4 separate regions of the Homo sapiens genome follow, and all the other regions are reported to be linked to region 1. Evidence: microRNA targets listed by miRTarBase, many of them from high-throughput screens and not tested one by one. Region 1 holds a microRNA gene; each other region holds the end of a gene's coding sequence. Distances are from middle to middle.

Region 1 (7,126 bases):
GAGCTGAAAAAATTTACACTGCGTGCTGTTAAGAGTGTTGGAAATGACGTGTGATACATCCTTAACATGTCTGACACATGGTGATGGCTCAGTAATTGGTGGCTGTGATATTTATAATTAATATTTATCTGTATATTTCAGTATTTTTCACTATATGATAATGCCTAGAAAGATGAATAAGGTTCAAGTAAATAGAAAGGATAACCTCAATAAGAGAGGTTAAATTATTTTTCAAACGTAGGCCTATTTATGTCATGCTGAAACCAATAAACTTAGCTATGTAGAATAGTAATGTTATTTTGGGGGACAATAAACTAAAATTGCCATTGAGGCATTACATATGACTCACTACTGTAATTACGATAACATTTTTATTTTTTATCAAAAAAAATTTCCAGGAGTAGTAAATAACATTATGGAGGTTATCATTTCTACTTAGTTGAACCTTATTCAAAATACAAATCTCCACAATTTATGTTGTAAAGGTTATAGTGTTTGTCACGTAACCTGGAAAATTTTAATTGACATGGGTCATCACAGCTCAATACATTTAAGAAAAAATCTTGAATTCCTAATCTTATTCATTTTAGTCACTGTCCTAATCTAACTCCTGAAATTTAATATTAATCCTTTACCCCCACAAAATGACTTAGCATCCTTAAAATTTCAATATTGCATTTTCTTATTTGGATTGAAGTTTAGATCTATTTAGAAAGTAGTCAGCCTGAAAGGCTGCTTTTTCACCATTTGCTTATTTTATTTGCATATTTACCTCTATAAAGGGATTACAGCTCACAATAGACATAGCAGTTACAAATGTAAATATAAATTGGTATTTTTATTAACAAGAATAAAATTTTCTGTCAATTTGATTAATAATTTGGTTACCAGTTTGGTGTTCTGAAAATCTAAACTCAGAAAAAATTAATTTCAGAAGGATGATTACAGCAAACTACAATTTGCTGTATATTTCAAGATAGCTAGAACAGAATATTTTAAATGCTGTCACCTGTCACATAAAAATGACAAATGTTTAAAGTGATAGATATGGTAATTATTCCAATTTGATCGTTATATTATCGACATGCATTGAAACATCACATTGTACCCTATAAATATGTACAATTATTATGTCAATTATAAATTTGAAAATTAAAAAAATTTTCCTGAAGAACATTACTTCAATAAATCATAGACACAGAGAAAAAAAACATAATTTTATATTTCACATAGTGCTGTCTTTAAATGCTACAGTTTCCAGGAGGCACAGTTCAGCTAAACAGTGCATTTTAATTACAACATATATTAAATATAAAGAAAATATCCTGATAATATACTTATTTATTAACTCATACTATCCTCTTCTATAAATTTTGCTTATATACAGGTAATAAATATGCACATGTAAATTAAAACAAATAAATCAAATGAAAGGGAAATAACCTTCTCAAACCAAGATGAAGGTAGGAAAAAGTAAATTTTAAATTAATACATGAAGAGAGTAAAGAAGTAATAAATCTGCAATTAAAGTTCAATTCTGAGATCCTAACTAGGTGAATCAAAGAGTGAAATGTAAGTAGGCATATAGCACAACATATTTGACTTGAAATTCTATTGAAGACCTCAACAATTATAATCTTAGTAATAGGATGTCAAGCCTGTAAAGTTTTCATTATATGGTATATTCTTAGAAAAAAAGTAGAATAATACATAGAAAGCAACCTTTACAAGGAGGTAACATTATCTATAAAAGGAAGGCAGCTTCCTCAAGAATATTATCCACCCACTTCCCAACCTGAAGTCCCAACATTTAAGGTGATGTGACAATTTATATGTCAGGGAGAAAAAATCACATTAAATAATTTCCCAAGTGCGAGGGCTTCCAACTAGGAAATTATAGGAATGGGAAAGAGTGTAAGTAACTTTAAATGTAATAATAATATTTCAGTGATATATTATTATTTCTTTCTGTGCAGGAAGAGCAAGATCTCTTTTAGAGACAGGGAAGCTTGACAGGGGAGAAAAAGGCTGGGATATTTTGGAATAATGTAGACGGCATCTTATAAACAAATCGATGGAAACAGGAGTTGCTGCTGTTGATCCTTTTGCTCTTACCATTGTTTTCTTCCCCATAGAGTTAGTGCAGAATCCCCATTCTTATATTTCATTATTCATTCCTTTGTTATAGTCTCAGAGGCATCATTTTTGATCAGATGACTTTAATCTCAGAGATAGGTGCTATATCCTCACTTCAGACATCCTATTTGCTGATTCCTTAATGGCAATTTTTTTTTCTCTTAACCACACCCTAAAACGAAGTAAAAATAAATACATATAAAAAATTCTGAAACACCACAAATTATTAAATAATTGAAAATAATGAGCAGAGATTTAACAATTTAACCAATTTTAGGAGAATTTGATATAATCAATTCAAGCCCTGATACTTAATATAAGATTCTCCCCGGTCCCCAAAGAGCAAAATCCTTTAGAATAGTGATGGCATGTTCCATTTGATACCTCCATCACATGGCAAAATACTTGATTTAATAAACATTGCAGGTTGAATAAATATTATGTTAAAAAATTAAAAAAAAAACAGAAAAGGGAAACTGTCTATAGTGTTGTCATGGTAACAAATGAAATAATTGAAACTCATAAATTCATTTCTCTGTGGTGATGTCTTCATTGAAAAAATTTCCAAGAGTAGTATATAATTCCTGTTTGAGAAGAAATTACTTACTTATTTGATGCACTAGCATATTTGGCCTTAAAATAATATTTTCTTTTTTTCTTCAGTGTATGTGTTTTTTGTTGTTGTTGTTGTTTTCTGTTCTCAAGTTCTAATAAATTTATTGAGAGGTAAATAATATTAGGATAACAGGAGCTCCTAAAAATGTGCTGATTGAAAGAATGACATAATGTTAAACAAGTAGTTTGAACTACATACTTGGAAATAATTATTCTAATTTAATAGATATTTTTCTTTTCTTCCTTTATCTTGCACTTGTAAAAGGGAAAAAAAGATATATGATTCAATGAACATATATCTCCAACTTGATGAACTTATGGACATTTTTGACATGAAAAAGAATTCCAGCTGATCCAAGTATCAACTTAAATTACATTATGATATTAATTAAATACTTAAAAACATAAATCTTGGGATGAACTCTAATTGATTCTTTGAATTTATAACTATAAAGCCAAAGAGAATTTATAAGCTAAGCACAAGCAAATTATAAACCCATAAAATTAAAATTAACAACATAAATTTGAGATAATAGAACATGTGTTGTTAACAGTAAATTTCCAACCTCAATTAAAATATGATATGATTGTTGTGATAAAGTTTTCTGTTGAGTTTCACAGGCCTAGTCAACCCTAAGCCATGAAATTACTTGATTTCTCATTTTACTCACATTAAAATGCTACCAAACTTTTGTTTCTATAGTGTCATCGGCGTGTAATTTGGGCTTCACTTGGGACAAATGTATTACATATGTAGCTTCTCTATCTCATTTGTTCATTAACTTCTCATCATACAACTCGGAGCCAAAAATATCATAAACCCAAAGGCAGCCATGGCACTGAAATAACCGATCTGTATTGTATCTGATAAAGAATATGCTTATATAAGGTTATTGTGAAATTATTATCAAAATAGAAAGATAAAACTAAAATAAAAATTTTAGTAGAGAACTTGTGGAACGTAAAAAAGCAATACTTTCAAAAACCTTCTCGCATCCATAGTAGCAAGTTTGAGAAACACTACATAGTAGACACGGAGAAAAACTAGTTTTCATACAAGTACTTTTCAAGAAACTTTTTAATTTCACCACAGAACAATTTAAGTTTATGAATTAGAAACTCGAACCCATATTTTCCAGAAAAAAAATGGTAAAATTATAGTTTTGCACCCAGACCTTTACAACACAATTTAATTTATCTTGTAATATAGCTGAAAACTCTATTTTCAGTAGACAGTAGAAATTACTTCAGCAAAGTCTCTATTTTATTTTCAATGTATGAATATCAATTATGTAAATTCCTTCATGGTAGTTTCTGGAGGTATTGTAATAAGAATAATTAAACAAAAGCTCAAGAGTAGTACTTGACAGGATCTTTTTAAAATTAATGTTGAATGCAGGTGCCTGAGGAAAAGTAAATTTAAGTATTGAAGTGGAAGATACAGAACTTCTGTCAAAATGCTGAAAGGACCTGGTTACAAATGGAGGCTTAAAATGTTTATATTACTGATTGTTAATTATGTCTAATTTACTTAGAAAGTTAAGTCTCATCTGGGCATGGTGACTCTTATTCATAATCCCACCATTTTAGGAGGCTGAGGCAGAAGGATCACTTGAGCTCAGGAGTTTTAGATCAGCCTGGGCAAAATGGTGAAACCCTGTCTTTACAAACATTAAAAAAAGAAAAAAAATCAGTCAGGAGTAGTGATGTGTGCCTGTAGTCCCAGCAACATGGGAGGCTGTGTTGGGAGGATCACTTGAGCTTAGGAGGCCAAGGCTGGGCTGCAGTGAGCCACGATTGTGCCACTGCACTGTAGCCTGGGCAACAGAGTGAGACCCTGTCTTCAAAACTAAACAAAACAAAGACAAAGAAAGAACTATTGTTCCTAAAACTAGCCTGAAGCTTGTCGTCTATTATTGAGTTCTTATTTTAATCAAATAAAATTAGTACATGCCATTTTTTCTTAGTAATCTCCTCACAGCACTAGGAAAACTTCACTCTTTCAGACATCTCAAATATTTCTGACATTTTCCTTTTCTAAAACAAAACATGTTTATTACAAAACATACCATAACATAGACAGTCATATCTATAAAATGATGGAATTCTGCCATTAATGGATACTATTATATCTATCTTACTATTATGCCTCAAGCCATGCCAAGATGAAACATTTAGTATCTTTTTTTTCTTGATCTCAAACTCAGGGTGCTTCAGGTAAGGGGTAAATACTTTTCTATGTGACTGTAACCTAAACTTCCACAAGTCATCAAAACTACGTAAAAACGAATTCACATGTGTGGTAATAACATTACTACATCACATTTTTTACTGGCTCTTGTTTTCAGAAGCTTGCAGAGACTCTGTACTTTTGCAAATGTCCTCCCTGTTGTTGTTGTTGTTGTCATTGTTGTTGTTGTGGTTGTGGTTTTTAACTCAGGAGACTTTTTGCATGTGCTCACAAATAAGTTCAAGAAACTACTACCTCAGCCATTATGCGTTTGATCTACACTTTAGCTTCTGGGCAGTACTTTCTCTCCTGGGCTCTGCTATTGCCTCTACTGGAAAGCACCATATTATTAAGGCAAAAGTTTAGTTTTATGAAGGTGTCACTGCTTCTTCCAGACACAGGCGCCATTTGCATTAGGGATCATCTTGTGTATAAGTTATTAGGGATTGTCTTGTGTATAAGTTATCTTATCACTCTGGCTGCTCCTGACAATGTTGAATTTTACCAGAAACCTGTACTCCTGGAAAACAGCAAAGGTTAAAAAATCCCCCCAGTCTTGTGTCTTCCAGGAAATGGTTCACTGCAAAGAACCACACTTCTTCCTACGACTTATATAAGATTTATGGGTGCCTTCCTTATTTACCCATGACAAAGCTGGACACAGATCTTCTGAATTCCTATTCTTTGAGTCATATAAAATTAGTTGATGAGCAGTCAGGCACCCATCTTTGGTTGATGAACTTAGATTCCTATGTCTTAATCTCGATCAAAAAGTGTTCTTTAGGGAAGAATTTTGAGATATTTGGAACCGAATTCAATGTTTTACAAACGTACCTCTTATGTTTTTATAGCATCTATTGATATGCTATTCTAAGATGAGGACAAACACACCAATATAATTTAGTAAATAGTAGTTGATAAAAGTTCTATATCCACACAGCTATTTTAAGTGAGTCAGTTGCATCCTAAAGGAAAGAGAAAAAAATATTTAGAGCAAAAAGAAAGACAGATCTTTCTTTTTTTTTTCTGTCATAGCTATACGTTCTCTGGCTGACATACACTCATAATTCAGTATGTACTTATTGAATAAAGTCAGGAAGTTGTTGTGTAATGTAATGATATAATATGCTTCAGAGAATGAAAACAAACCAATTCTATATTACAAATCTGAAAATGGACAACCACTGGCAATAGACTTTCTATGTCATAAAAGTAAAGAAAAATATAGTTGGGTCTATTGTAGATTAATAGAGATTTAAGAACCAACACAACCAAATACAATGTGTGATTCTTGATTGACTCCAGGTGTGAGCAAATCAGCTATAAATACACTTTTAGAATATCTGAATATGCTCAAATATAGAATTTGTGGGTATTTTGTAATATTATGTGATTTGTCTCAATTATTTTAGCTGTAATAATAGCACTGCAGCAAAATTTGAGAATATTAATTTTTGGAGATATATGCTTGAAGTATTTAGAATGAAGTACCAATGTATCTATAATTTACTTTAAAAAGAACATATACCTAGTGATGCAAATATAGAAAAATAGAAACAGCTTTTGCATATAGACTTGGGTATAGAGTGTATTACACTCTGTATTTTTCCAAATGTGTAATAGAATGTCCATGCCTATCGTAAAAAAGATAGAATAGAAGGAAAATAAAATATTTGAATAAATAAGATAAAAATAATAAAGTATCTATATACCTACCACTTGCTCATTTCAAAAAGGAAAGACACTTAAAAAGTTTCCTTAACACACGTGAAGCTTCTGAGAGTAAGGGAGACAACAACGCCTCCTCTAGACAAAAATGTCAGAAGGAGAGCTCTGCAAATGCCTCCCTAGCCAAAGTAAGGTGAATGGTGTAGTTAGCCAAGGAGCAAGATCGGCATGTTCTCAAGGGCTAGCATCCTATTTTCCCTGAAATCTGTACCAAAATATCTTTAGTCCTTTAAAAAATACCAAAATTAGTTTTAATAAAAAATCCATGAGTTACTTAATATTATTCTATTGGTAAATATTTTTATAAACTTACAATAATTTCATAATAAAATTTTATGGTATAGATGTGTGCATGTGAGTGTGCGTGTGTATGTGAGTGTGTGTGTGTGTGTGTGTAAGTGATTGTTTCCTTAGGAT
Region 2 (7,126 bases), not on the chromosome of region 1:
CTCAAAAAAAAAAAAATTGCAGAATGGGCCGGGCATGGTGGTTCACACCTGTAATCGCAGCGCTTTGGGAGGCTGAGGTGGGTGGAAACCCCATCTCTACTAAAAACACAGGAGGCGGAGGTTGCAGTGAGCCGAGATCGCACCACTGCAGTCCAGCCTGGGCAACAGCGAGACTCCATCTCAAAAAAAAAAAAAATTGCAGAATATCTCCCCGAGGTGTTTTCTGAATCTGTAGGCTCTGAGAACATGTAGGATTCACTCCTGTGGCATAATTTACAGAAGTGTTTCCCTTGTGGACTGCTGGTTCTGAAAAGCTGACATCCCCGCAATCATGGGCCTCCTGAGCTCTGCTTACACCACGCTGACCGGTGTTTCCTCTTTGGCCAGGGTGAGGACCCTTTCACCAGTGAAACTGTTGATCCAGAAATGGAAGGAGATGACAATTTAGGAGGTGAGGATAAGAAAGAGACACCTGAGGAGGTGGCCGCGGACGTCTTAGCAGAGGTGATTACAGCAGCAGTGAGGGCCGTAGATGGGGAAGGAGCGCCCGCTCCAGAGAGCAGCGGGGAGCCGGCTGAGGACGAAGGCCCCACGGACACAGCGGAGGCCGGTAGTGATCCTCAAGCCGAACAGCTGCTGGAAGAGCAGGTGCCCTGTGGAACGGCACATGAGAAGGGCGTCCCCAAGGCCAGAAGTGAGGCTGCAGAGGCTGGAAATGGCGCCGAGACAATGGCAGCAGAGGCAGAAAGTGCCCAAACCAGAGTTGCTCCTGCCCCAGCTGCCGCGGATGCTGAAGTGGAACAAACTGATGCAGAGTCTAAAGACGCTGTTCCCACAGAATGATGCTCATTTCCCTGTTCCAGGGAAGGCGTTGGGATGATGGATGCGTTGGTCTTTCTCCCTTGGTTTGTAAGCAGTACAAGGGCGTGTGCTCCCAGAATATGCTGTAATCTAATTTTGGTGAAGAGACCCAGCGTTTCCTCCTGAGCAGTGCCTCTCACGGCTTGTCTCATGCAGTCGTGTGGCTTCTTGCCCAGGTTTCAAAGCTGAAGTACATTGTCCTTAGCGGCTGTAACATGTCTCTTGACAGTAGTGCACTTGGAATAATAAAGGTTGGGTGATTATATCTTGATGATACATTACTTGTTCAATACAGCCACTGATGGAATGCTTCCTTTTTTATTTTTTTCCTTAATTTTTTTTTTTATTTGGTTGGGAACAGCTGAATACTAGGAATATATCTTGCTCTATAGAGGATTTTTTTTTGTATGTTTCAAGCTTCAGCCTTTAACCTATACCTTTGTAGTGCACCATATGGTGTGTGACTTTCACAGGACTTCGCAGCACCTGGTTCACATGTGGCACTGACCGCGTCACATCCACGCACTCCCAAAGGCCAGAAGTATCTGACCGACCTACGCCACTGGAAACACACCCACCGCAACCTCAAGAACCAGACTGTGCAGAGGGCATTGCGTCCCAATCTTTAGTCCTTGCTGAATCAGTTCTCTAATATTTTACCTCATTTGTGTTCCACCTCTAGATTACTTCAGGTTTTTTTCCTTTAAAATTAGTTACTACCACTCAAATGTATTTACAAAGAGAATTTGGCCAGGCACGGTGATGCATACCTATAATCCCAGCACTTCGGGAGGCCGTGGTGAGAGGATAGCTTAAGCCCAGGAGTTCAAGACCAACCTGGACAACATAGCAAGACCCCATCTCTTAAAAAAAAAGGAAAGAAAACTTGATGTGATTGCCATAGGTGGAATAATCCAACATAAATTGCCATAGATAGAAGGTATCTGTAATATATATATATATATATAAAATGAAATATATGTTTCATTTTAGAGAAATAACTATTACTTTAGATCTTTCCAAATCTGAGAAAGGGAGGCTAGCATGTGTTCAAGGTTAGCACGCAACAGAATTTCCTAAAATCAGAAGAATTGGAAGATCCTCCCCTTTTGAAATGGCCCTGCTGTGTCAGTTTCCCTGTGGCCTTTTGAACTGTACATCTCACATGTTGGGAAACGCTGGCCACTGGGAAATCATTAGAAAGGAGGCTGTAGAATATTTGCCGAGCCTCTACTGTATACCAGGGGCTAACTCACCAAGCACATTCTAGGAATTGGGCCCTGCTCATGAGGAGCCTTAGTGGAGATTCCAGGTGAATATTTATGAAAAAGTCAACATTAGAACTGAAAATGGAAATAAACTGCTTGAAAAGACGATGGTGCCTCTGGGTCATTTCTGCTCAGCATCCGTTTGTGTTGTGTAGATGCGTCTTAATCGCAGGGTGAGCATGCCTTTTAAGCTTGTTCTCTTAAGGCAAAAATGTCGGTAGCATTAAACAGTAGTGCAGAAAAACATCACTAGTGGAACTGCTTTATTTCCTTAATTTTCTTTTTTTTTTCTTTTTTTTTTTTTTTTTGAGACAGTCTTACTCTGTTGCCCAGGCTGGAGTGCAGTGGCGTGATCTTGGCTTACTGCAACCTCTGCCTCCCAGGATTACAGGCATGAGCTACTGCACCTGGCTCTCCCCTACCCCACACCTTTTTTTTCTTCTTATAAAAATCCAAGACCCGGCCAGGCATGGTGGCTCACACCTGTATTCCTGGCACTTTAGGAGACCAACGCAGGTGGATCAGTAGAGGTCGGGAGTTCAAGACCAGCCTGGCCAACATGGCAAAACCCTGTCTATACCAAAAATACAAAAATTAGCTGGGTGTGGTGGCACACACCTGTAATCCCAGCTGCTGGGGAAGCTGAGGCAGAAGAATCGCTTGAACCAGGGAGGCAGAGGCTGCAGTGAGTCGAGGTTGCGCTACTGCACTCCAGCCTGGGCAACAGAGCAAGAATTTGTCTCAAAAAAATAAAATATCAGGCCAGGTGTGGTGGCTCATGCCTGTAATCCCAGGACTTTGGGAGGCCAAGGCGGGCAGATCACAAGGTCAGGAGATCGAGAGCATCTTGGCCAACGTGGTGAAACCCCATCTCTACTAAAAATACACAATTAGCCAGGCGTGGTGGCAGGTGCCTGTAGTCCCAGCTACTCTGGAGGCTGAGGCAGGAAAATCACTTGAACTCTGGAGGCAGAGGTTGCAGTGAGCTGATACTGCATCACTGCACTCCAGCCTGAGCGACGAGCAAAATTTCGTTTCAAAATATGTATATGTCAATCCAAGACCTGTCATTAAATTGGTCTGAATGTCAGTGAGGCTCTTCCACCTTCCACCTCTTGGTGAAACTACATAATTCTGTTGTTGTTGTTGTTGGTTTTACAGGCAGGATCTCACTGTTGCCCAGGCTGGAGTGCGGTGGCACCACAGCAGCTCACTGCGGCCTCCAAATCCTGGTTTCAAGTGATCCTCCCACTTCAGCCTCTTGATTAGCTGGGACTACAGGAGTGCACCACTATGCCCAGCTAATTTTTAAAAGCCTTGTAGCCAGGCATGGTGGCTCATGCCTGTAGTCCCAGCACTTTGGGAGGCCAAGGCAGGTGGATGGTCTGAGGTCAGGAGTTCAAGACCAGCCTGGCCAGCATGGTGAAACCCCGTCTCTACTAAAAATATAAAAATTAGCTAGGCATGGTGGCAGATGCCTGTAATCCCAGCTACTCGGGAAGCTGAGGCAGGAGAATCGCTTGAACCTGGGAGGTGGAGGTTGAAGTGAGCTGAGATCACGCCACTGCACTCCAGCCTGAGCCAACAGAGCGAGATTCCATCTGGAAAAAAAAGTCTTGTAAGCCGGGCGTTGTGGCTCATGCCTGTAATCCCAGCACTTTGGGAGGCTGAGGCGGGTGGATCACCTGATGTCAGGAGTTAGAGACCAGCCTAGCCAACATGGTGAAACCCCGTCTCTACTAAAAATACAAAAAATTAGCCAGGTGTGGTGGCAGGTGCCTGTAATCCCAGCTACTCAGAAGGCTGAGGCAGGAGAATTTCTTGAACCCAGGAGGCGGAGGTTGCAGTGAGCCGAGGTCATGCCATTGCACTCCATCCTGGGCAACAAGAGTGAGACTCCATCTCAAAAAAAAAAAATTACTTCTATGTTTTATTCCAATAATTTAATAATGTTAGCTCATATTTAGGTCTGTAGTTCATTTTAATTTTTGTTTGTTTTGTTTTGTTTTGTTTTGAGACGGAGTCTGGCTCTGTCGCCCAGGCTGGAGTGCAGTGGCGCGATCTCAGCTCACTGCAAGCTCAGCCTCCCGGGTTCACACCATTCTCCTGCCTCAGCCTCCCGAGTAGCTGGGACTACTGGCGCCCGCCACCACGCCCAGCTAATTTTTTTGTATTTTTTAGTAGAGACGGAGTTTCGCCTTGTTAGCCAGGATGGTCTTGATCTCCTGACCTCGTGATCCGCCTGCCTCGGCCTCCCCAAAGTGCTGGGATTACAAGCGTGAGCCACCGCGCCCGGCCAATTTTTTTTTTTTTTTTTTTTTTTTGAGATGGAATCTCATTCTCTTGTCCAGGCTGGAGTGCAGTGGCGCAGTCTCAGCTCACTGCAGCCTCTGCCTCCTCAGTTCAAGTGATTCTCACGCCTTAGCCTCCCGAGTAGCTGGGATTACAAAATTGTGCCACCACGCCTGGCTACTTTTTGTATTTTTAGTAGAGACAGGGTTTCATCATGTTGGCCAAGTTGGTCTCGAACTCCTGATGTCAAGTGATCCTCCTGCCTCGGCCTTCCAAAGTGCTGGGATTATAGGCGTGAGCCACTGCCTCTGGCCAAGTTAATTTTTATATACGTGTAAGGTAAGGGTCCAACTTCACTCCATGTGGCTTATCGCGTTGTCTCAACAGTATTTGTTGAAGAGACTGTTCTTTCCCCCAATGAATGGTCTTGATACCCTTGTCAAAAGTTAGTTGACCATATAACTACATGGTTTACTTCTGGACTGTCAGCTCTATTCTATTCTACGTATCTATCCTTATGTCACTGTGCTTTGAAGTAAGATTTAAAGTCAGGCAGCGGTTCATGCCCATAATCCCAACACTTTGGGAGGCTGAGGCAGGCAGATCAGGTAAGGCCAGGAGTTAGAGACCAGCCTGGCCAACATGGTGAAACTTCATCTCTACTAAAAATATAAAAATCACCTGGACAGGCCAGGAGCGGTAGCTCACGCCTGTAATCCCATTTACTTTGGGAGGGCGAGATGGGTGGATCACCTGAGGTCAGGAGTTCGAGACCAGCCTGGCCAACATGGTGAAACCCTGTCTCTACTAAAAATACAAAAAATTAGCTGGGCATGTGGTGCGCACCTGTAATCGCAGCTACTCTAGAGGCTGAAGCAGGAGAATCGCTTGGACCCAGGAGGGAGGCAGAGGTTGCAGTGAGCCGAGATCATGCCATTGCACTCCAGCCTGGGCAACAAGAGTGAAACTCTGTCTCAACAACAACAACAAAAAAAATTAGCTGGACATGGTGACATGCACCTGTAATCCCAGCTACTTGGGAGGCTGAGGTGGGAGGATCGTTTGAGCCTAGGAGGTGGAGGGTGCAGTGAGCTGATACCGTGCCACCTGTAATCCACCCAGCCTGGGCAACAAAGTGACGACACTCTGCCTCAAAAATTAAATTAAAATAATAAATAACTCAAAGTCGGCCAGGCACAGTGGCTCATGCCAGTAATCCCAGCACTTTGCGAGGCCGAGGCAGGTGGATCACCTGAGCTCAGGAGTTGGGGACCAGCATGGGCAACATGGTGAAACCTCTTCTCTACCAAAAATACAAAAAATTAGCTGGGCATGGTGGTGGGCACCTGAAGTTCCAGTTAGTGGAGACACTGAGGTGAGAGTATCACCTGAGCCTGGGAGGTAGAGGTTGCAGTGAACTGAGATCATGCCACTGCACTCTAGCCTGAGTGACAGAGACTGTGTTCAAGAAAAATAAATAGGCTGGGCATGGTGGCTCACGCCTGTAATCCCAGCACTTTGGGAGGCCAAGGCGGGTGGATCATGAGATCAGGAGTTCAAGACCTGCCTGGCCAAGATGGTGACACCCCGTCTCTACTAAAAATACAAAAAAATTAGCTGGGCATGGTGGTAGGCACCTGTAATCCCAGTTATTTGGGAGGCTGAGGCAGAGAATTGCTTGAACTGGGAGGCAGAGGTTCCAGTGAGCTGAGATCGTGCCACTGCACTTTAGCCTGGGTGACAGAGCCAGACTCCATCTCAAATAAATAAATAAATAAAATAGATGAATAAATACAAGCTCAGGTGCAGTGGCTCACGCCTGTAATCCCAACACTTTGAGAGGTCAAGGCAGGTGGATCCCCTGAGGTCAGGAGTTTGAGATCAGCCTGGCCAACACCCAACATGGCGAAACCCTATCTCTACTAAAAATATAAAAATTAGCCAGGTGTGGTGGCGCATGCATATAATCCCGGCTACTTGGGAGGCTGAGGCAGAACAATCACTTGAACCTGGGAGGCGGAGGTTGTACTGAGCTGAGCTTGCACCACTGCACTCCAGCCTGGGCGACAGAGTGAGACTCCATCTCAATAACAATAAAAACATGAATAAATAAAATAAATAAGGAACTGTGACTCCTCCGACTTTGTTCCTCTTTTTCAAGATTGTTTTGGTTATTCTGTGTCCCTGTTTTTTGTTTTTTGTTTTTTTTGAGACGGAGTCTCTCTCTGTTGCCCAAGCTGGAGTGCAGTGACGTGATCTCGGCTCACTGCAAGCTCCGCCTCCCAGGTTCACGCCATTCTCCTTCCTCAGTCTCCCGAATAGCTGGGACTACAGGTGCCTGCCACCACACCCCACTAATTTTTTGTATTTTTAGTAGAGACGGGGTTTCACTGTGTTAGTGAGGATGGTCTCGATCTCCTGGCCTCGTGGTCCACCCGCCTTGGCCTCCCAAAGTGCTTGGATTACAGGTGTGAGCCACCGCACCAGGCCTTTTTTTTTTTTTTTTTTGAGACAGAGTCTCGCTCTGTCAACAATGCGGAGTGCAGTGGCGCGATCTCAGCTCACTGCAACCTCCACCTCCCACGTTCAAGCGATTCCCCTGCCTCAACCCCCAGAGTAGCTGGGATTACAGGCACGTGCTACCACAACCAGCTAATTTTTGTTATTTTTAGTAGAGATGGCGTTTTGCCATATTGGTCAGGCAG
Region 3 (7,126 bases), not on the chromosome of region 1:
AAAATAATTCAAGTATGGTCTATTCCAGAGAGAGGAGGCATTCCCAAGTTGTCAGAATCCTAAAGCAGACATCATGGAGTATTTATTTCCATGCTCCTTCTAACTTGGTCATACCAAATTTGAACGTGAAAATTCTTTTCAAATGCTCAGCATTTAGTTATATTGACAAATAATTCCTCACTAAATTCATCCAAATAGAATATGCATTCTTAAACATTTTAAAATAGATTTCAACTGAGGAACAAGTACAATAAACAAATGTTATATAGTAAATAAACTTTATTTATCTGTTTCTCAGAGATGACACTGCCAACAATCACAGATTTGCATACAATACAGTTATGTATTGGCTATTCACAATTTACAGTAGTGTTTTTTCCTCTGAAAAATATAAGTACAAAAGCTAAGTAAACAATGAGGTACTGCCATTTGGGATTTTTTACATGTCTTAGCTTAAAGAACTGGTCTTTAGCAAATATTCAACAGATCAACCTGAATAAAATAGTCAATTAAATGCTCTAATTTATCAGAAAAAATCCACTAAGTTTCACCTCAAAATGTATTGCACAAGTCTTTTTAAAAAATCACCCTAAAAATAAATAGGAAAGGTAAGCCGTTCTTTAAAAAGAATGGATGAAAGGAATATTATGTAAGCCCATAAAGCAGGTTAAGTTATCAAAATATCTTTTAAACAACATAAAACTCTTCCCAAGAGAAAACTGAAGAAAAAACTATCACCATTTCTCCACTGATAAAATCTATTTTAAAGGCAGTCTGCAACTTATCTGTGGGCCAGATTTTTCTTGGTCTTTTGGCTACATGAGGGGCCCTGAATGACAACTTCATTCTCAAAGAGTAGCAAGTGTGGACAGTTTTCCAAGCAGCAGTCACCCAATGTCACTCTTCTTCAAGATGAAGATCGGAGCCATGACTGGAAAAGAAAAAGGAAAAGAGAATAAAGAAAGGGGGCAAAAAAATCCAAAACATTTAGGTTGACTTTTTGGGATATTTGTTTTTTCAAGTTTGAAATAAAATTCTATTCCATGGTCTAGAGACTGCAGTAAAGAGGCAGAAATAAGGCTGGGTGTGGTAGCTCATGACTGTAATCCCAGCACTTTGAGAGGCCAAGATGGGAGAATCACTTGAGGCCAGGAGTTCGAGACCAGCCTGGTCAACACAGCAAGACCCCATTCTGAAAAAAAAAAAAAAAAGTAGAAATTGTCTAAACACTAAATCTTAAAGGTATCTTCTAAAAATTAACATTCTTGCAATGATGCAAACCAACCTATAGTCAGCAATCCTGGAAAATGGCATTTCTAAGTGAAATTTGGAACTGCAACCATTTACCATATATCGAATGCTACCAGTTTATACAGTAACCCAGGAGTAAACACGCTGACTTGGCTGAATCTCACAAATATTGGACTGGAATTAAAGATGACAGGCTGGACCCAGTGGCTCATGCCTATAATCCTAGCACTTTGGAAGGCCAAGGTGGAAAGATCACTTGAGGCCAGGAGTTTGAGACCAGCCTGGCCAACATGGCAAAACCCTGTCTCTACTAAAAATACAAAAAAATTAGCCGGCCGTGGTGGTGCTTGTAACCCCAGCTACTCGGGAGGCTGAGGCAGGAGAAATCACTTGAACTCAGGAGGCGGAGGTTGCAGTAAGCCGAGATCATGCCATCGCTCTCCAGCCTGGGCAACAGAGTGAGAGACTGCCTCAAAAAAACAATAAAAAATAAAGATGAGAAAGAGCTCTTTCCTCTTATCCAGTGTGCTGATTATTCTACAAATTGCAATTCTCCCAGCATGACATAATAGCAAAAGACAAACAGCATTTTGGTGTGGAAATTTATGTCTCATCTGGAATTAAGAAATTTAATTTAAAAATTAAAAACAGCCTGGGCAACATAGTGAGATCCCATTGCTACAAAAAATAGAAAAAATTAGACAGGCATGATGGTGTGTGTCTGTAGTCCCAGCTACTCAGGAGGTTGAGGCAGGAGGATCGCTTGAGCCTGGGAAGTCAAGGCTGCAGTGAGCTGACTGTACCACTGCACTCCAGGCTTGGCGACAGTGACACCTTGTCTCAAAAAATAAATTAATTAGAAATGCTGGCTGGGCATGGTGGCTTATGCCTATAATCCCAGCACTTTTGGGAGACCAGGGTCAGAGGACTGCTTGAGCCCAGGAGTTCAAGACCAGCCTGGGCAACATGGCAAGACCCTGTATCTACAAACTTTTTTTTAAAAAAAATAGCTAGGTGTGGTGGCATGTGTCTGTGGTCCCAGCTACTCAGAAGGCTGAGGCGGGAGGATTCCTTGAGCCCAGGAGGTCAAGGCTGCAGTGAACTGTGTTCACGCCACTGCACTCTAGGCTGGTGTGACCATGCTGGGGGGCAAAAAAAAAAAAAAAAGCTATGACATAGCCAAAGTCTTCCTCATAATGTTTCTCAAATGAAAATGCTGGCCAGGAGCAGTGGCTCACGCCTGTAATCCCAGCACTATGGGAGGCCAAGGCAGGTGGATCACCTGAGGTCAGGAGTTCGAGACCAGCCTGGCCAACATGGTGAAACCCGGTCTCTACTAAAAATACAAAAAATAAGCTGGGTGTGGTGGCGGGCACCTGTAACCCCAGCTACTCAGGAGGCTGAGGCAGGAGAATCACTTGAGCCTGGGAGGTGGAGGTTGCAGTGAGCCGAGATTGCGCCACTGCACTCTAGCCTGGGCAACAAGAGTGAAACTCCGTCTCAAATATAAAAAAAAGAAAAGGAAAAGAAAATGCTAAAACCAGTAGTCACATCAAGATATGAGTTTAAAATCCCATAAAAATAAATTACCAAGTAAGATTAATAGAGGCAAACTTTCCATATATATTAAGTGGATAGGGGGAGTTTTAGTCTTCTGAATTTGTAAATGAACAAATATTTCACTACTCATAATGTACTACTAATAGTATATTATTTATAAAACTAGTTCAATAATCATGTTGGTCCTAGGAACCTAAAGAAGACACCAACAAGATCTTCTGTTATACGTAAATTCCTTGTCAGTTTTTATTTTGAAACCGTAGCTTGATCTGTTGTGGGAAACAAAATTCAAGATCAGTTCAACAATGCTGCATCATTAAAAACAAAAAAGCTAGACGTTTTCTAGTTTAAAAAAGACTAGGAAAATATGACCACTAAATGCAATGTGAAATCTCAAGTGGATCCTGGATTCTAAAAAATTATGGGAGACATTATTTGGAAAACTGTAAAAAACTGAGTATTATGTACTATATATTAGTATTAGCTAATATTAAACTTCCTGAGTGTAATAACTGTACTGTATGTAGAAAAATGTCCTTGTTCTTAAAGATACATGCTAAAGTACTTAGTTTATGTTTACAATTGTCAAATGCTTGCAAGCATGTCGGCAAGTAATTGCCAAATGTTACAAATGGGGAATAATATAAATGGAGAGAGAACAAGAGTGACAGCAAGTCAGAAAATCTGGCCAAACATTACTAGGTGAAGGGTATATGGGTGTTCATTGTACTATTTTTGCAAATCTTATGTCTGAAATGTTTCAAACTAAAAGTTGAGGAGACAATCAATTAATCAATTAATAGAAATGCTGCACAATATACATTTCCAGTGATAATTGATATTCAGCTGCAATAATAACAAGTACAATGCAGTATTATTTTAAAAGGAAAACATTAAGACTTAATGGGTTAGCTATAGAATTTACAGTTTTTCAATGTTCACATTTATTATCAAAGTAACCTAATAAAACCATGCATTGTACTGCCAGCCATTGTAATGTGGATGACAAAAATAAGACAGTTCTGGATAATCGCTAAGGCAAATCAAATAATATATATTAAAATCAAAAGGAGGCTCAAATGAAGGCACAGAAGATTTTTAAAGATAAAAGCTTAGAGGGCCAGGCACAGTGGCTCACGCCTGTAATCCCAGCACTTTGGGAGGCCAAGGTGGGCAGATCATGAGGTCAGGAGATCGAGACTATCCTGAATAACACGGTGAAACCCTGTCTCTACTAAAAATACAAAAAATTAGCTGGGCATGGTGGCGGGTACCTGTAGTCCCAGCTACTCAGGAGGCTGAGGGAGGAGAATGGTGTGAACCCAGGAGGCGGGGCTTGCAGTGAGCCAAAAACACGCCACTGCACTCTAGCCTGGGTGACAGAGCGAGACTCCGTCTCAAAAAAAAAAAAAAAAAAAAGCTTAGAGGCTGAGGTAGGAAGATCGCTTGAGCCCAGGAGTTCGAGACCAGCCTATGCAAGACCATCACTACAAAATAAAATAAAATAAAAAAATAGGTGCCTTAGAGTCCCAGTTATTTGGGAGGCTGAGGTGGGAGGATCCCTTGAGCCCAGGAGCTGACACAGGAATGAACTATGATCACACTACTGCCCTCCAGCCAGGGTGATAAAGGCTTTACTTATTTTTTAAAAAAAAATAAATAAGGCCGGGCGCGGCTCACGCCTGTAATCCCAGCACTTTGGGAGGCCGAGGCGGGCGGATCACGAGGTCAGGAGATCGAGACCATCCTGGCTAAAACGGTGAAACCCCGTCTCTACTAAAAAAAAATACAAAAAATTAGCCGGGCGTAGTGGCGGGCGCCTGTAGTCCCAGCTACTTGGGAGGCTGAGGCAGGAGAATGGCGTGAACCCGGGAGGCGGAGCTTGCAGTGAGCCGAGATCCCGCCACTGCACTCCAGCCTGGGCGACAGAGCGAGACTCCGTCTCAAAAAAAAAAAAAATAATAAATAAATAAATAAATAAATAAATAAATAAATAAATAAAAGCTTAAAAGAACGGAGAAATGTTGTATCTTGCCATTTTAAACCTTGATACTATTATTAGCTGGATATTAACAATCACTGAGAGTATTTATTTTAATTATAGTGAAGCCCTACTAATTGTGATCTGTTTTTGATTTTGTGAAAATTCTAGCAAAGGCTGAGGTAAAGATGTATGGTACATTTTCAGAGGGTGCTAAATCAACCTAATAGCATGAAAAATACATAGAGATGAGGGGAGAGGGTTTAAATGATGAAGACAGTCAACTGCGTTGAAACATTTCATATGCCTGCATTTCACTGTAATATGTTAATCAGGAAGAATCACATTCAATTAAAGTAGGCTGCCTAACGGTCTCCTCAGGACAAATGTGTTGTCTTGTGTTAAACTGTCTGATTTCAGGAAGTAATGAAGCTATATTTTAAAATTGATCTTACTAGTTTTCATTATTTCTGACTGGCCTTGACTCAGGCTTTACAGGATTTTGAATTCTCACGGAATATACCACTTCATTTTTATCTAGAAAATGATTTTTCATTTCTCTCTCACAATCATAATTTCAAAGATCATTCTTGGAAAATTAAAAACAAAAGGGAAAATAAGTTACATAAATACTTTTTTGGATTCTTTAACAAAATTTCAAAGAGCAATTTTCAAACTTTCAATTACTCTTTAAAGAAATGAAATTTCCTAAAATTATATAACTCTTACTGGTGGTAGTAATTTTTAACTATTATCGATCCATATAACAGAATGAACAGAAAATACTTATATTAACCCATAGCATAATCATATATTTATTAAACAAGAGCAAAAGAATTCCAGCAAAATGGTTAGTATCAGGCAACACATTTGATTTTTGCACAAAAGACACAAGACATTGTTCTTCACTCACCACATGTTAACTAAGCACAGACTGATGGTTTACTCAGAAGATACCACTGCGAGGTGAAGTAAACTACAAAGCCAGGAAGAAAAAAAGCTTATTGGGTTAGTTTTAAGACTTAATATAACACATAGATTGTATGTGTATATGAAGTTCATAGGATTACAGACTGTACTTAAATTTTTCTCAAATCTCCCCAAATCAAGGGTGTACAGGCAAGGAATAAGGAATCTGTAATACCTCCCCCCATATCCTAGGTAAATATAATATTATGTAGCTGAGATTTTACTTGCAACTTTCATTTGAAGACTTAAACAACGTAATGAAAGGTGTACTGCATATTTTAAGTACATATTTACCAGCTGAATTACGGGGCAATTATTTGCTTTACAAAAGGATCTCTTTCATAATTCCATGAAAGTACACATTAAAATTTGATTTACATAATCTCAATTTACCCTAAAAAGTTTTCGGGAAAATGATGATGAATTTGAAGAGCCATGTGTCTATATGTTGAATTCTCATTCCTAATGTGTCAATTTGATCACTGAATAACTCTCTTGTAATTCAACAATGTATCAGAAATGGTTTCAGGAATGGTGACCCAAACTGAAATTTCAATTTAAGGAAACTCAATCTCAAATATAGTTTTTACTGTGACAAACCTTAAATAAATTCTATGCCCCATTTTAAGATGGTCATTGTCCAAAATCATTAATTACCTTCACGGTGATTTAAAATGGCAGCATTAAAAACAAAGATTGCTTATAAAATCTGAGTCTATTCTTGGATAGTGTGGCCAACCTCAGAAACATCATTTTATTTATCTTTCATATTTAAAGTTAGTAAAAAGCAGCAAAACCAAAAGACAAGCTAGAAAATAATATGTGCAACACACACAACACAATGAGGTTAATATCCTCTCTGGCAGAAGTATACAAAATCCATGTATATGGATGTTCCCTATGTCTATGCTTGTAAAGTACTGAAAATCTTGAAAACATAAGTAAATGGAATGAGGAGGAAACTGGTGAACTAAACTGTAGGACATCCATATAATCATACAATCAGCCATTGAAAAGAATGAGACCAATTTGTAATAAGGTGGAATAATATAAAAATATATTAAGTGAAAAAAGCAAGCCATTGCATACTCTCATTTTTATAAAATAAAATGAATGATAAAGGAGTAACTATAAATATGTAATTACATGGCTTAGAAAACATGGAGATATTCCCCAAACTGTTCACAGAGATGATACTGGCATAGCAGAAGTAGTCTGGAGGCTGAAGATCATGAGGGACTCCCTTTCTATGTTTCTGGCTTATAATATTTTTTCCAGTGATCACGTATTACCTTATTCTACCAACACCAGAATCAAAACCAATCTCAAGAAAACAAATATGTATTTGACATGTGCAATATTTTC
Region 4 (7,126 bases), 49 Mb from region 1:
ACAGCATTAATGCCAACTAAAAATAGCCATGTTTTTTAAAATGGCATTTCTAAATGATAGATGCTTTAGTATATTACAGCCTTACCTTTAATTTTCAATACTGTGACTAAACACAGAATTATATAATAGGGAAGTTCATGTGGTCTCACCATTCTCCCAAACCCTGCCCAAAGGTGGTAGCATGACTGCCATTGTCTGATTGAAACACCACACGTGAATCTCTTAAGGTTTGTTGAGTGCTTATTGCATGTCAGAGACAGGGCTTAATGCTTTACATGCATGATCTTATTTGTATTCACAATAATTCCATAAGGAAAATACTAGTATTCCCATTTCACAAATGAGCAAAAAAATGAGGCATAGCTCAAAACAATACAAATTAGTTGCAGGGCGTGGATTAGAACGTAGGTCAACCTAACTCTGGATTCCAAGCTGTGAAACACCAAGCTTTACCACATCCACTGCTACAGCCCATTCCACTGCTAGAGGAGGGTTCTTTTATTGGGCTGATCCAATGGACCACTCTATTATTTGTACTCATTGTCTTAGTTCTGGAGGAAAGTGCAGAATTCTATTCACTCTACTACATGATCACCCTCTGAGACTTCAGAATTATTTCCAAACACTGTTATTTTGGTTACCTGCTTGTATTAGTCAGGGTTGTCTACAGAGACAGGATGAATAGGATAGATGGATATATGAAAGGGAGTTTAAGGAGTACTGACTCACATGATCCACAAGGTAAAGTCCCATAACAGGCCACCTGCAAGCTGCGGAGCAAGAAAGCCAGTCCGAGTTCCAAAACCTCAAAAGTAGGGAAGCTGAAAGTGCAGCCTTCAGTCTGTGGCAGAAGGTCTGAGAGCCCCTGGCAAACCACTGGTGTAAGTCCAAACGTCCAAAAGCTAAAGAACTTGCAGTCCAATGTTCAAGGGCAGGAAGCATCCAGCATGGGAGAAAGATGAAGACCAGAAGACTCAGCCAGTCTCATCCTTCCACGTTCCTCTGCTTGCTTTTATTCTAGCCACGCTGGCAGCTGATTAGATGGTGCCCACTCAGATTGAGGGTGGGGCTGCCTCTCACAGTCCATTGATTCAAATGTTAATCTCCTTCGGCAACCCTCTCACAGACACACCCAGGAACAATACTTTGCATCCTTCAATCCAACCAAGCTGACACTCAATATTAACCATCACACTGCTTTTGGGTTAAACAGTTTATAGGATGCCCCCTTAAAATGTAGTAGCCAAAGGAAACAACACCACGGAGCTATTTACTAGATATATAGACTATCTTGTCGATTAAACTGCCATTAAATCTACACTTCAATGTTGTCTAAGATTGCAACATTTTTCTTAACAAGGCTTGTAATATTTTTGGCCAACAAACTTTCCAAAACTTTTTCAAATAATTTGTTGCCAAACCAGGTGTCCTCCGATGAGGACTTAACGTTTAGCCATGTTGTTTCAACTGTCTTGATCCAGTTCTTCTGACCTAGTTGGGCATAATGCCCTTTAGATGCACATTTATATTTACACATATGCACACAGACTGCACAAACGTAACCCCCATACGCTCCACACAAAACTGAATACATTTACCTCAATTAATGTTGATTAAAAACAAACGTACATATAGTTAGTTCCTTCATCCCTTTAGTTAAGTAAAAATAAGTATTTCAGTTCAATACAGGAAGCATCAAAATATTTAAATACTTCTTTATACACACTGTGAAGAAAAATGTTATAAAAACATTTAACTGGTGATTGTGACAATTTGTATATAAATGTCGTATTGTAAAAAAAAATTTCTAACACATATTACAGTAACTAATTCTCACTAGGAACAAATCTGAGAATCTGCACCATGCAACTAAAATTTTCTTCCTTTGATAAAGCGGCTGAAAATTGAGAAGCAAGTTTATAATATCAATTTGTTGTGACTCACGCAAATTAATCTATTAAATTAATTTAAATTAAAATTAATTTATTTAAATGTAACTCATGTAGGACATGCTTGTTTTAATGTTACAGTGAGTTTTTTATTTATGAATTACATAGAAGCAGAATTAAGTCATATTACTTCATTGTTTACAATGGAAAAAATAAGTTTTAAGTAGTGTTATTTTTCATTGCTCAAATTCTATTCAATTCTTATACACCAAAGGAGCATCTACATGTCATTTAGCGTTTAGAGGATTAATTTATAAACTCATGGATTCCAGAGTAGCTGATGAAGAAATGACCTAAGAGTCTTTATAAAAAACTTATTTTTCTTATTTGTAAAGTAGCAACCACAAGGTGAAATTGTTTTTTTTTTTTATACAACAGCAACAACGACAACAAAAAACAACTACTAGGGAGAAAAAAGAATGATTCCCCACTAATACAAATTCATTCTCTATTGTACTAAACTCACACATTCAGATTATAGTTTCACCTTCATTTAAAATAAGTTAATTCACTTCTGGCTGTTAGTCTGAATTACTGAAAAGGTTTAAACTTTTTTTTTAATTGTGGACAAGTCCAATTAACCAGTAAAAAATTTCCAACAATGCTTGGAAAATGTTTCACCCATAAAGCAATTTCCTTAAGATGTAAGCAAGTGGCAGAAAAAAGAAAAACAATGAAAGTATGGTGAACACTGTAGCTTCAATTAAAAAAAAAAACAACCAAAGTATGAAGTTTAGCCCATGTTTGATTTCAAGAAATGCTTATAAGCAGAACGCTACTGACCTCTTGTGTATCAAGAATGTAACATAACACAAGTGCCAAAAATGGTATCTCCTAAAACTACTAAAAGACAAGGTTTAAGTAGCTTGTTTTCCCAACCAGGTAGGGAACTATTAGAGCAGAGGACACTTGACTGAGTGCTTTTATATGTTTGTTGTCTCAAAACTTTTTACTGAATCAATAAAGATGATTATTTTGATTTTTTATTGTTGCTGAAAATATATAGCAGAGAATACAACAAATTAAAGTAATAAATTTAGGACTTTTAAAAACTCTCATTTATTTTGGTAAGCCTAAAAAGCAAAAATTTGAGTTTCCATTTTAATGCTGACTATCCAATCTGTCCTGTTTTCAAATGCAAAAGTGCTTAAAAACAGCAAAGGCAAAACAAAATAGGACTTTATTGCCGTAGCCTTACACTACATTGCTTGAAGCAGTCTTTTAATCTGTTAAGTGACCTAAGAACAAAGTCCTAGCACTTTGGGAGGCGGAGGCGGGCGTATCACGAGGTCAGGAGATCAAGACCATCCTGGCTAACACGGTGAAACCCCATTTCCGCTAAAAATACAAAAAAAAAAAAATTAGCCGGGTGTGGTGACGGGCGCCTGTAGTCCCAGCTACTCGGGAGGCTGAGGCAGGAGAATGGCATGAACCCGGGAGGCGGGGCTTGCAGTGAGCCGAGATGGCGCCACTGCACTCCAGCCTGGTCGACCGAGCGAGCGAGACTCCTGCGCTCCAGCCTGGGCGACCAAGCGAGACTCTGTCTCAAAAAAAAAAAAAAAAAAAAAAATTCGTGGTAAATCTCTGTTCACCATCAGATTTCATCCAAGTTTTCTCTGATCGATAAATATTCCACTTGAAAGACCCAATCTGATGGTACAGGTAGGGAAAGATAGAGCTAAATCTATAGCCTTTGGTTTTCTAATTTAGAACACTTTCTCCCCTCCCCACTCCAAGAATAGACCTAAAAAGTAGAAGTATAAAGATGTTCCACTTTTAATGCAGAAATGTAGACAATTAGCTAGTTATTACTGTCAGTTGTACCCTCCCACCACCTCAAAACAAGCTACATTCTTTAAATGTTCTAAGCAACTTCTAGTCATATTTATGCACATCAGCTTACACGCTATATGTGTGAAAAGTGGGATATTCTTTCAGCATCAACTTGTGATTTCATAATTGCTGAAATTCTTTAAAGGAATAAAAAGTTATAGACTGCTTTTGTGACAATAAAATCAAACTTTAATTGGGGAGCCAGATAATATTGCCTTTTCTTTCCAAAATTTTAATTTATACTTTTTAGTAAAAAACATAACACATTTCTCATTCATTTAACCAATTAATCCAAAGGAAAAAAGTGAAGTACTATAATCACAGGTACACTAACAAACACTTTTACAAAGACATTCAGAAATATTTGCAGCAGGTTTTATAAGACTCTGATATAAAACAAAGTAAAATAAAACGTTTTGAAATGGCAAAATCGGTTTACCTAGCCTGAATTGCTTCAAAGAGGCATTTGCACTTCTTGTCCTGGCTTAATAAAACAAAGTAAAATAAAACATTTTGAAATTTCAAAATCAGTTTAGCCTAAATTGCTTCAAAGAGGCATTTGCACTTCTTGTCCTGGCTTAAAAACAAACCCTGAAATTACTTTCTTTTATCCAAATCAATTGACCATATTAATCTGCATAAAGTCTATGAGGATACGTTTTGATAAATGCTATAAACACAAAATTAAGGCAAATCTGATAGTTATTGTCAAATAAATAGCACATTTAGAAGGGCCTTTGTTAATAAAATGCCTCTAATGTATCCAGAGGTATAGATTTCAAAGGGCAAGTCTGTACCTGTTGCACATCTGATTCTCACAGCATTCATGAAAGAGGAGACAATGATATTCCCATTTCACTGAAAACTAAGGTGACTTGTTTAAGGTCATACAGTCCGATCAGTGGCACCAACACATTTACCAATGGCCTTGGAATACAGAGTACAGGGCTTCCTGTTGGTAGATTTACCTTCCTAACCTCACGGAGATGTGATCCAAGTATCAAAACAAGTGTGAGTCCCTTCAGGTCTGGAAAATACTCCAGCCATAACAGGTGAAGAGGAAAGTCAGCTCAAGATTTGTCATATGCTACACAATTTACAGTAAAACACTGGGAAAAGCAGGAAGCTGATGTGAGGAAGGGTGAAGAATGATTTGAAAGATTACAAAATGGCAAAGTTCCTCCAAAACCTATAATAAGCTAAAACAAACTGGAAAAAAAAAAAAAAAGGTCTTAATTGGGAAGCCAATATTCACACCAAAGGAGGGAGTGGGAGGAGAAGATGTAGGAGGAAAGCAGGAAATTATCATCTTAACAGCTCAAAGGATTTGGCACATATCCATGTTATCTAAATAATCTTGAAATTTCTTTGAGGTAGACAAATGTTAGGAATAAGTTGAGTTCATGTAAAACAAAAGAAAGAAAAAGAAAAAAAAAGAGAAGGAAGCTCTACAATCCTTAGTTATTTGTAAAAACCTCTTTTACTAAAGTGCTTAGATGCCAGCCATTTTATTCCTACATTTAAAGGCTGACTGACATTAAATATCTTATAGGTAATGGACAGAAGCCAAGTTGGGCTTTAAAAAAGGCCTAAAAGCCTATCAAAGTTTACAGTACACTTCTAACTTTTTATACCTTCTTTACTTGGAAATTATTGTTTTCTCCTCCTTGTCCCTTGGTAAGCTCCTCCTCAGTTTTCAAGTCTGAGCTCAAATTCACTTCTCCTGCGAAGTATCCATGATTCCCTCAGTCAAATGCAGCACTCCTACTCCAAAAGTCCCACTATGCTCCAAGGTCGCTTTTGCTGTGTTGTGACTGTTTGCCTGCTTGTCTCCCCACTAGACTGCAAGCTACTCAAAAGGCAATCCTGCTTTTTCATTTTTAAGTCGTCAAGACACAGCACTCTGTGGGTACTCAAATTAATCAATAGTTCATCTTATTTACAATCTCTCAAGCAGCTCATTTTATGTTAGTTGCACAATCTGGAGGTCTGGAGTTCTTCACATGAAATTTAATAAATTATCATGCAAGCTCATTTTTATTCCCATTTTTTTTACCCAGGGAGAATCAGTCTACCAGGGCAAATAATGAGGTTACCACCTTAGTCCCTCTTCCCAACCCCATTTTTTAGTTACTTTCCTTTCATTAAAATATCCTTATGCACTTACAAATAAAACTAAGTCCCAAGAGGGCAACAAAATATAAGATTCTTAATGATACAAAAACAAATCTTTCTGATACTAGATCTTTTATACTAGAAAAATAAATTCTTGTGCTTGAACATCATTTTTAAGCACTTAGTGAATTGAGAATCTGAACTGCCACTTGAAATATTCCCAGGAAAGAAACATTATGAACCAAATGAAGGAACATAGCTATTCAAAGGGACATATTTTTGTACTTGTTTTGCTCCAATTTCTGCTACATAGACTGCTCCAGTCTTTCTGTCGACTTCTAGGAGATGTGGCAAAACTTGATCTGCTAGTTGGATTGTGCTGATCACAGAACACTCCCCAATGCTTCCCACTGGGGGTGCTGCTACGACTGAGAGCCTGCTAAGATTCAGCTGGGCCACAATCAAGTACTTCCCATCAGGAGTAAACCTAAGGAGAAAGACATTTAACATAATAAATGTCTGTGAAAAAACATAAGGGTATTTTTTTTCAACATTTTAATCCCCTACTGTGCCAAACAACAGTAGGCACCTACTTGCTGAATGATTCTTTTAAGAAGAATTTTAATTTGATCTAATTCTGTTTATGAAGGAATAAGATGTCCATGATGGTAAGCAAAGCCAAAGATTAGCTTAAATTTGTTAAAAGTATCAATATCATAGTCCACAAAATGAAATTAATGAAGAATTGATGTTAGGCTGGGTTTGATTTTTGTCCTGTTTAAACATTTACCAAATAAAGGCTAGAGGAGAGGTCTAGCATATGTTATTTCTTGTTTTCACTTTACCTGGCATCTGAAAATCTTGGATATCAAATTTCTCTGTATATTTCTATTTTCCCCTAATTCAAAATTAACAATAAATATTTTAAACTTTCAGCTAGCTATTCAGAGGAAGTGAGACACATACACTAACTAAAACAAGCATTTTGCAATAAAATGAAACAATTACCTGACTGAAGAAGGTCCCTCTTCTGTGAAACAATTATTCCATGCTCCTAACCACTCCCCAGTGTCTTTATCAAATACTTGGATTCTTTTATTTCCTCGGTCAGCAACCCACACCTGAGAAACACACAAAAATGTCAATTGAAAAATATCCATGAGAAGAAAAAAGGGAAAAGAATGTTTATTTTCATTAGTTTCACCATACATTATCTCACTTAAGAGGAT

What was found. Region 1 holds the annotated microRNA hsa-miR-4500 (UGAGGUAGUAGUUUCUU, at 5,224-5,240, opposite strand). A microRNA usually pairs through its seed, bases 2 to 8, with sites in the 3' UTR of a target mRNA and lowers its output. Matches are read on the target gene's strand: a 7mer-m8 pairs with bases 2 to 8, a 7mer-A1 pairs with bases 2 to 7 and ends in A, and an 8mer does both.
Region 2: the mRNA of AKAP8 is a reported target of hsa-miR-4500. Seed matches in the 3' UTR shown: 7mer-A1 at 1,519-1,525.
Region 3: miRTarBase lists GOLGA4 as a target of hsa-miR-4500. Seed matches in the 3' UTR shown: 7mer-A1 at 416-422.
Region 4: miRTarBase lists NHLRC3 as a target of hsa-miR-4500. Seed matches in the 3' UTR shown: 8mer at 5,152-5,159.

What each region holds. Positions count from the first base shown.
Region 1 is chr13:87,613,448-87,620,573 of GRCh38, forward strand. It overlaps MIR4500 (microRNA 4500), which reads right to left and starts at 5,293; the gene lies at 5,218-5,293. It overlaps LOC124900338 (formin-like protein 5), which reads right to left. Exons shown (of 2, transcript XM_047430855.1): 2 at 820-2,308. The region is part of intron 1 of MIR4500HG (MIR4500 host gene); the gene reads right to left.
Region 2 is chr19:15,348,632-15,355,757 of GRCh38, reverse strand. AKAP8 (A-kinase anchoring protein 8) reads left to right here. Exons shown (of 14, transcript NM_005858.4): 14 at 388-2,373. The coding sequence ends at 843. All of the region lies in intron 3 of LOC124904643 (a long non-coding RNA gene), which reads right to left. Among named protein-coding and RNA genes, the nearest start is that of BRD4, 20 kb to the right of the region's middle.
Region 3 is chr3:37,359,885-37,367,010 of GRCh38, reverse strand. GOLGA4 (golgin A4) reads right to left here. Exons shown (of 24, transcript NM_002078.5): 23 at 5,706-5,768; 24 at 132-931. The coding sequence ends at 5,739. Among named protein-coding and RNA genes, the nearest start is that of APRG1, 18 kb to the left of the region's middle.
Region 4 is chr13:39,046,932-39,054,057 of GRCh38, reverse strand. NHLRC3 (NHL repeat containing 3) reads right to left here. Exons shown (of 7, transcript NM_001012754.4): 6 at 6,906-7,018; 7 at 3,949-6,384. The coding sequence ends at 6,132. It overlaps LOC105370169 (a long non-coding RNA gene), which reads right to left and starts at 986. Exons shown (of 5, transcript NR_187783.1): 1 at 730-986.